Linked DNA regions of Homo sapiens: region 2 is linked to region 1. Evidence: fine-mapped expression QTL. A gene starts in region 1. The other region holds a variant in brackets. All regions are shown on one strand. Distances are from middle to middle. Region 1 holds the start of STK3 (serine/threonine kinase 3). Region 2 overlaps STK3 (serine/threonine kinase 3).

Region 1 (4,394 bases):
GAAAACCACTGGACTAAAGCGTCCAGCTAGAAGGTACTGCTGCAATTCAAAAGTGAGGGTCATAAAACCATGGAATGGGTTTTATGGGGTAGTACTCTTGAGAAAGAAAACAGAAAAAATTAATCCACCAACTTTTTAATAGAAAATTTGATAGGCTATAGTGACAAACTAGATGGGATAATGAAAGAGTAAGACCTACCTGAAAAAATAAAAAATGCCAACTGAGCAGCAGCTTCTAGTCATACTTGAACATCAACGACATCGATAAGGCCATGTAAAAGTCAGCACTAAGGAAGTGTTATTCAAGGCAGAAAAGCAAAATGGCACTTTTATAAGGATTAAGAGCAGAATAAGCAACAGAGACCAGGAGATTACAGAAAAAGAGGACCACTACATCATGGAATGATAAGAAAGAGAGTTTCAAAAAGAGCCATCACTGTATACAACAAGAGGGTGCACAGCCTTTGTAGCCAATCAGATGCAGAATTCTGGCACTTTCTCCACTTGACCAAGTTATTTAACGTCTTTGAGCCTCATATAATAAGGAAAACATAAGTTAACAACTAACACTGTTGAACACATAGGGGCTTCAAATATATTTGTCAAATTTTATTTCTTAAGCTCAGTCGTGATACATAAATATTTATTAAATTAGTCCCCATTATCTTTTGTTGTTTTTGTTTTGTTTTTGTTTTTTTGAGACAGGGTCTCGCTCTGTCCCAAGTGCTTTACATATCACCTCATTTAATCCCCACAATACATTTCACAGATGAAGAAATTAAACTTAGAACTAGCATAATAAGTAGCAGAGCCAGGATTACTATTTCTTAGGATTTAAATAATGTATACTTAAATTTCCTGGCAAACAGGATGACCTCAAAACGAGTAGCTATATTTCATTATTAGGAGATAATAATCAATAGGGGCAAAACTGCCAGTAATTCCTGTCATAGCCTTCCATGTGGCAAACTCTCTCAACATCCTCATCTATAAATTAGGATTAATGCCTATAATCCAATCTACTCCATAGGGTTGCTGTGAGGATTAAATATTATGAATATGAAAATTCTATAAAAAATGTTGAGACATTCAAATATCAGGGATTGCTGTCACATATCTTTCGCCTTCAAAAATGCTTTTGCGGCATTTTTGTTCACTACTTCAAAATAAGACTCTGAATAAGCTAAAAATAAGTCTGTTAAAAGTGCAACCACCACTTTGAAAAGTATAAATCACCACAGAATTGCTGCCTACACCTGCCCCTGACTCCTCCAGGTTCTCTAATGTCTCCACAAGGGCAAGGATTCTCTTACACCTATAATGAAACTCTGATAACTTACAGTACAGCTAATCAATAGAGAGCTGCACTTCAATTCAGAGTTGTTCAAACTGGACTACTGTGTTTTCTCAGAGGTGCTCCTTCCAGTTCTTCCAGAAAAGAAAAAAGTGCCCAATTCTCTTATATTGTATTAAAACGGTGCCCAATGAGTAGAATGCAGGTAACTTACAAAATGCTAGAAAAGAATCTATCAATTGACTTGCTCAAGTGCTCTGACAGCAGGTCCCTTTTGGAAACTCCTTCACGACCCCCCCTTTTTTTCACCTGAACAGATGGCTTCCAGGCTTCAAGGCTCACATGTCTAGTCACACAATTCACAATAGCTCCCAAAGTTCCTAACTTTTCAATTATCCCATGTTCTTGAACACACCTTTCATCTAAAGATCTCTAGCTGTCAAAGCATACGAACTCTTTAATCTTCACAACAGCACTATCTGAGAGATTACTATCCTTATTTTATAAGTTAAAAATGAAAGACTGAGGTTAAATATTTTAGCAACATCAAACAATTCGTTAATTCATTCTTGGGGAGAGAGGAATACATATTATGAACTTCTGTCAATGGACAACCTAGATTTGGCTTCCTAAGATCATTGCAAATATTAGCTCAAACACATCCCACTCTTGTATGCATACATTTCCAACACAGGTGTCAAAGATTAAATATAAACTATTAATAACAGTAAATACCATACCAAAGCAGCACTATTTTTACACGCAAAACTATATTGGGGGAGGGGGTTCTAATTTAAACTTCCCACTGTCTTGCATCCATAAATACTTTTGAACTTGAGGGGGAAGGGGGAAGAACACCTGTCAGAGCAGCACATCCACAATGTTTTACAGACTGTGTAGCTATTAATATTTAATTCCTCCCGCCCCGGGAGGTCAGGCCGCAGGGAGCCCGGCGCTGCCCACCCGACTTTCCACGCGCCAGGCCTGCCGGCCGCAGGGGAGGCTCCGGCTCCCGCTCCCCTCAGGTCCCCTCGCCCGTGGACAGACGCGGCGGGACACTCGGACCCGCCTCCCGACCTCAGCGCGCCCGGCTCGGGGCCCGGCGGGCGGGGAGAGGCTCGCAGCAGGGCCTGGCCTAGCCACCCCCGCCCCGCGGCCGCCGGCGCCGCTTCCCTCCTTCTTCCCGCTCCCCGATTCGTTACCTCTTAGGCGCCGGCGGCTGCTCCATGGCGGCCGGGGACAGAGAGAGGGACCTGGTGGACGGCGAAGGCCGAAAGGAGGAAAGGAGCCGGGGCACCGGCCGGCCGAGCCTAGGGCACCACAGAGGGAAACTCTGGGAACTCGGACCAACTTTCCCGTAACTCCGCGGCGGATCTCCCTCCCGCTTAGGAGCGCGGCTCCTCCCGCCCCGCCCCGCCCCCGGCCGCCCCGCCCCGCCCCCGGCCGCCCCGCCCCGCCCCCGGCCGCCCCGCCCCGCCCCCGGCCGCCCCGCCCCGCCCCCGGCCGCCCCGCCCCGCCCCCGGCCGCCCCGCCCCGCCCCCGGCCGCCCCGCCCCGCCCCCGGCCGCGCCGGCCGCCAGCCTGCGGCGGCGGCCCAGAGAAGGTGGACGGAGCCGGGCACCGCGGCGGGGGGCGGAGCCTGCCGCGGCCTGGGTTGGCGGGCGGGGCCGGTGCCGCGGCGGGTGGGCGGGGCCGGGGACGAAGGCCTGGCTGGCCCCAGAGCCCCGTGACCGGGAAAAGGAGAAGGTTCCGCTAGAGCTAGGGGGCGAGGCCGGAGCCGCTCTAGGCTGGGGAAGGGCAAGTCCCTCTGAGCTGGCCCAGAGCTCCGCCCCTAGCCTGCCCTCACTACGGTTTGCCCTGATCCAATTTGACTCATTTCTTTGGCTTTCCCAACGACACATCCTAACATCGTGTGAATCCGTTTGAAGTATTACTTTCTCACTGCCCACGCTTCCCTCTCTAGTTCTGTTTATAATTATCGGTTATGTTTTCCCCCAGCCATTTGACATGTGTAGGCCACAGTACTAGGGATACTTCTGGAAATTCTTGTTTGATTTTTATTGTGGACAAGCTCCTCGCTACATTTCACAATAATTACATCTAATTACCGAGAAAATAATTCGTACAGTGAGATCTCTCGGTACACCAAATTCAGTTGCACTGGGCCCTTGCAGCTGTCCCATTGGGTAACCTGGCAAGCCTGTCACAAATTATGCTGCCAGGAAGAATACTCAAGAAAAGTTTGTTTCCTCCCCTCTTTGGTCCTCTCCCCCAACCTGATTCCAGCAGCCCTCATCCCATTGTAATCTGACCACTGCATGCATCCATATTGTGGGTATACTTTTAACCTTAAATTCCATATATACCTTTCACATAACAATATACAGCTGCTACATGAGTTTACTTGTTTTTGTCAGAAATTGTCAAGATGGGCCGGGCGCGGTGGCTCACGCCTGTAATCCCAATACTTTGGGAGGCCAAGGCGGGCGGATCACTTGAGCTCAGGAGTTCAAGACCAGCCTGGCCAACATGGTGAAACCTCGTCTCTACTAAAAATACAAAAGTTAGCCGGGCCTGGTGATGCGCCTGTACTCCCAGCTGCTTGGGAGGCTGAGGCAAGAGAATCACTTGAACCCGGGAGGCAGAGGTTGCTTTTAACCTTAAATTCCATATATACCTTTCACATAACAATATACAGCTGCTACATGAGTTTACTTGTTTTTGTCAGAAATTGTCAAGATGGGCCGGGCGCGGTGGCTCACGCCTGTAATCCCAATACTTTGGGAGGCCAAGGCGGGCGGATCACTTGAGCTCAGGAGTTCAAGACCAGCCTGGCCAACATGGTGAAACCTCGTCTCTACTAAAAATACAAAAGTTAGCCGGGCCTGGTGATGCGCCTGTACTCCCAGCTGCTTGGGAGGCTGAGGCAAGAGAATCACTTGAACCCGGGAGGCAGAGGTTGCAGTGATCCGAGATCGCGCCACTGCACTCCAGCCTGGGTGACAGAGCAGACCTTGTCTCAAAAAAGAAAAAGAAAGAAAGAAATTGTCAAGATGTAGAGTTACATAGAATTTTCTTGGAGGTTAGAACAATAAATATGA
Region 2 (4,394 bases), 150 kb before region 1:
ACCCGAGGTCAGGAGTTAGAGACCATCCAGCCCAATCAACATGGTGAAACCCAGTCTCTACTACATATACAAAAATTAGCCAGGAGTGGTGGCACATGACTGTAATCCCAGCTACCTGGGAGGCTGAGGCAGGAGAATCGCTTGAACCTGAGAGGCAGAGGTTGCAGTGAGCTAAGATCATGCCATTGCACTCCAGCCTGGGGAACAAGAGTGAAACTCTATCTTTAAAAAAAAAAAAAAAGTTAAACGGTAAATTTTGTTAAGTGTATTTTGCCACAATAAAAAAGTAAAAAAAAATAAGTTCTGTGTATGGATGGTAGTGACGGCTGTACAACAGTGTAAATGTGTATATAACATCTCTGAATTGTACACTTAAAAATGTTAAAATGGTGAATTTATGCTTATTTCCACAATATTTTTAAAAGCTGGTTAAGGTCTTTCAGTAATTAGCTTCACTCTAAATTATTTTTAAGGCAGATCAGAATATAGTTGCTCAGAGGCTTCTAAATACTTTGTAAGCAACTGAACCACCACTACAGCTAACCAGCACCCCTAAACCAATTATTGCCTAGCAAAGTATTACTGCCTTTCAACCCACTGGCCCTGCCTAAGTCTGGCAACCATATAAAATGCTTGATACTGCTTCTGCATTAATAAGCAGTGAGCTCTTCAAATGTAACACTTGATGTCCAGGGCAGGAGCAGGTTATAGACATAGTATGCTTAAATCTACTTTCCCCATGGTTGATGACTAGACTTAAATCCTCAGTCACATTCCCTGCTACCTGACTGGGGCCTTGTTTCATTATCTGTCGCCCTTGGCCCTACTCCTTACATCTTTAATCCTCTCCTCTGGGTCCTACATCTCATTCTAAAATCAGACTAAGTCTCCTCATGCCATTAAAATCTTCCCTGGACTCTCAAACCTTCAAATCTCACCGCACCCCCACCCCCCGCCCCCACCGCCACCCAACTTACTCCTCTTCTTGGCTACCGAACTTCATTTCTGGATCCCCCAGGAATTGACTTCAGCCTGCTACTTGACTGAATTACACTCCTGAAAGTTAACCATGACCTCCAATCTGATAACCTATTATTCATACTACCCAAACTAAAGGCAAAAAAGAAGAAAGAAGAAGAAAGACAAAGGAGGAAGAGGAAGGAAGAAGGAAGAAGGAAGGAGAAGGAGACGGAGATGGAGATGGAGACAGAGAAGAGGACAAACATTTGTAAAAGGTCATCAATCACAACCTCCTTAAAACTATTTTCTCCCTTGGCTGAAACTCTCCTAATTCTTCTCTTACTCTCTGGTCTCTTTTATCTCCTTCCACCAAATCTCCAAATATGGGTACTTGTCATTCTGCCTTCACCCTTTTTCTTCCCTCTCCTAGGAATTTTTCAGAACTTTTCTTCTCAAAACTTCGCAAAACATTTGAAAATGTTTTTTACATTTTATATGAATACCATCAGCACAAGAGGTTGCAGAAGGAGTCAGGTAGTTGGAGAACAATTCTGCCTACCCCAGTAACTAAGAAGCTGGCAACAGAAGTATGCTTCCCTACTGCACATGTATATATCAGTGTCCAAGGTTAAGAAAACCACATTTGTATTTTTTGGCAGGTACAATACATTTTAAATGAAAAAAACATTTAGAATGTTTTCTTTTCAAAATGATTGTACTGATAGAAGGAAGTATCTAACAATCTGTTCATTATTAATTGCATGTTTTCTGATATGGTTAATTATTTAGGCTTGATGTAATCACTCAGCTGGTTAAGACTGCTTACTGATACAAAGTTAAAGATAGGATGTACAAATGCAATTAAATATCAGTTTCTTAAGGTTAAAAAAAATAATAATTTCCTCCAATAGAGAGTTCTTAACATTCTATGTGGAAATAAAATTTGTAGAAAAGAAACAGAAAAATGAAATCCATAGAGAATTGATATGCTACACCTTAAATTAAAACTTATCATCAGAATACTTAAATTCTTAAAAAGTATAATTTATGATATTTAATAAATAATTTATGAGTATGAAAAATTAAAACCATGGACTTTTTTAAACTTTAGGATTAATGACTAGTAATGGCTTCTTTGCATAAGTTGCTTCCTTTCGCCTTAAACAAAGAAACCATACATTTTAAAGTTTTATCATAAAAACAGAATGTATATGAAATTATTTCACTTTAGCAATTTTTAAAGTATTTTAAGGCTCAAAAACTTAAGGATATGGGAAAGTGATCAAGATGTAGTGATAGAGGAAAAAAAGAAAGTTATAAAACAATGTAATCTCATGATTCCAATTTTGGTTAAAAACCAGTATGTACTAATGGGCACAGTAGATACACAAAGTACACAGAAGCCCATATATCAAAATGTTAATGGTAAATCTTGAGGTAGTACAAGTATTTTTATTTTCTTCCTTATACTTTGTTTTCTTCCTTTATACCTTTATTCCTTTCTATAGCAAACATGCATCACATTTACAGTTGAGTTTTGTGGAAGAATAAACTCTATATTTCATTCCATTTCTGCCTTCCTGCTTATATTTTGATAGACTAGGAAAGGA[C/A]CATCTTTCAAAGCTGTGCAGAGTAACTCTTTAGCATTGTCAGTGCTCTCATATACCTAATCCATCAGCAAATCCTGTTAATCCACTTACAAAATATAACAGAATTCAACTACTCACTATTTTCACTGCTTCTTCAAGAGAAGTCACCGTCATCTCTCGGTTTATGCAAAAGTCTCCTAACTAGTCTATGTAATTCCACCCTTACCACCTTTCTGGCTCTAATGTCACTCCTCTACTTAGAAATTCTGTGACTTCTCATCTCATTCAGAATAAAAGTCTAAGCACTGATTGTGACCTTCTAGGCTCTATGATCTGGACCAGGAATCACCATGCACACTCCCACTTCAGCACCACAGAACTTGCAGTAAGTTGGCTCTGCCTAGATATTCTACATCCAGATACCCTCATTTTCTTCAGCTTTTTATTCCAGTATCATCTTCTCAATGAGGCCTTCACTGGCAATCCAACACAACACATCAACCACTCCACCCTACCCTTGAAATTTCCTATCTTGTTTCCCTGTTTTATTTTTTCTACTCTAGCACTTATGACTATCTAAGACACATGATGTATTTATTTATTTTTGATATTATCTCCCTCCCTCAGTAGAATATAAACTCAATAAAGAGAAATTTTTACCTTTGTTTTTCCTGCTGCTGCATCCCTAGTACCTAGAATAGTCCCAAGCACATGGTAGGTACTCAATATATATCTACTGAATAAATGGATAAATGCATTCCAGTGAATCCACAAGCTTAAACCCACAGCTTCTCAGTTACAGTAATAGTTGGCTCAATGAATGTCATGAAATGATAGCAACACATTTATTCATATTCTGAGAATCAATGACTTTCTAAGTGACTTTGCATAGGGCAAGAGAGCTGAAGAACAGCTATAGTAAACAATAATGTAGACATATTTTCTCAAGCCTAAAAGGGAGCATCTAGGATCTTAGCTTCAAAATTTATGAATAAAATTATGACTTGATTTGGTATAACAAAGGTAAGGTACCCTGAGATCATATTGCTGTTATTGTTGGTACTAAAAAGTAAGCAAAACTGTCTAAAATCATATTGTTACTCTTCTAACTTTTCCATTAGAATATTCAATACCAGTCTGTGAAACTGGATATATAACTTTCCTTATGCAAACAAAAAACTAGCTGAATATCATACTACTATGCACCTGAGTATCTGTTATCTGAAAGATCTTTGGATCTTTTATAAACATCAATCAATGCTGTGCAGACAGAGCTAAGAGGGAAAGGCAATTAGATACTGTGAAAAAATGGAGGCAATCAGAAGAAATACAGTCCATGGTGGCAGTGACAGAGCTAAGCAGGAGGTATGGATAATCTGGGTAAGTGCCATGGAAAAATAAATATCATGATTGAACTTGAGGCAAATGGAAACAGTTCAAATTGGCTTCATACACTACTCTGTGGAACATATGATGTCCATATGTCCATTACCAACAAACTGAAACATGGAAAATAACAAAAGCCGATGCTATGATGGCTATAAGAACACACCCAATGCCAGTCTCTACCACACCGCAGCAGCATAACTTACTACAGCTGCCAGGTAAGTTGGCTAAGAAGTCAGAAGCAATAAGAAAAAAAGGAGAAAGAACTAACTATAAACTGTTCTCTTTCCCTACAGAAGACAAAGTTGGGATCTATACTAGAAAGTAGAATGTAGCAACGATAAAGGCTGAAAGTAAAGCACAATTTTTTCTCTGTAGACAGTTTCTAAAAGTATAAACTACTTTGGAATTAAAGAAGGCAACATTTTATCCAAAACTACAAACGATTTAAGATCCAGA

What was found. PIP is the estimated chance that this variant, and not a neighbour inherited with it, causes the effect. A credible set is the group of variants that fine-mapping cannot tell apart.
Region 2: its variant is the best candidate, but not a certain one, in a credible set for the expression of STK3 in whole blood (TOPMed, PIP 0.62).

What each region holds. Positions count from the first base shown.
Region 1 is chr8:98,823,019-98,827,412 of GRCh38, forward strand. STK3 (serine/threonine kinase 3) reads right to left here and starts at 2,670. Exons shown (of 11, transcript NM_006281.4): 1 at 2,497-2,670. The coding sequence starts at 2,522. RefSeq lists silencers at 2,237-2,746, 2,817-3,156.
Region 2 is chr8:98,676,389-98,680,782 of GRCh38, forward strand. The region is part of intron 6 of STK3 (serine/threonine kinase 3); the gene reads right to left. Among named protein-coding and RNA genes, the nearest start is that of STK3, 150 kb to the right of the region's middle. The variant C/A (reference allele first, on the strand shown) is at 2,571.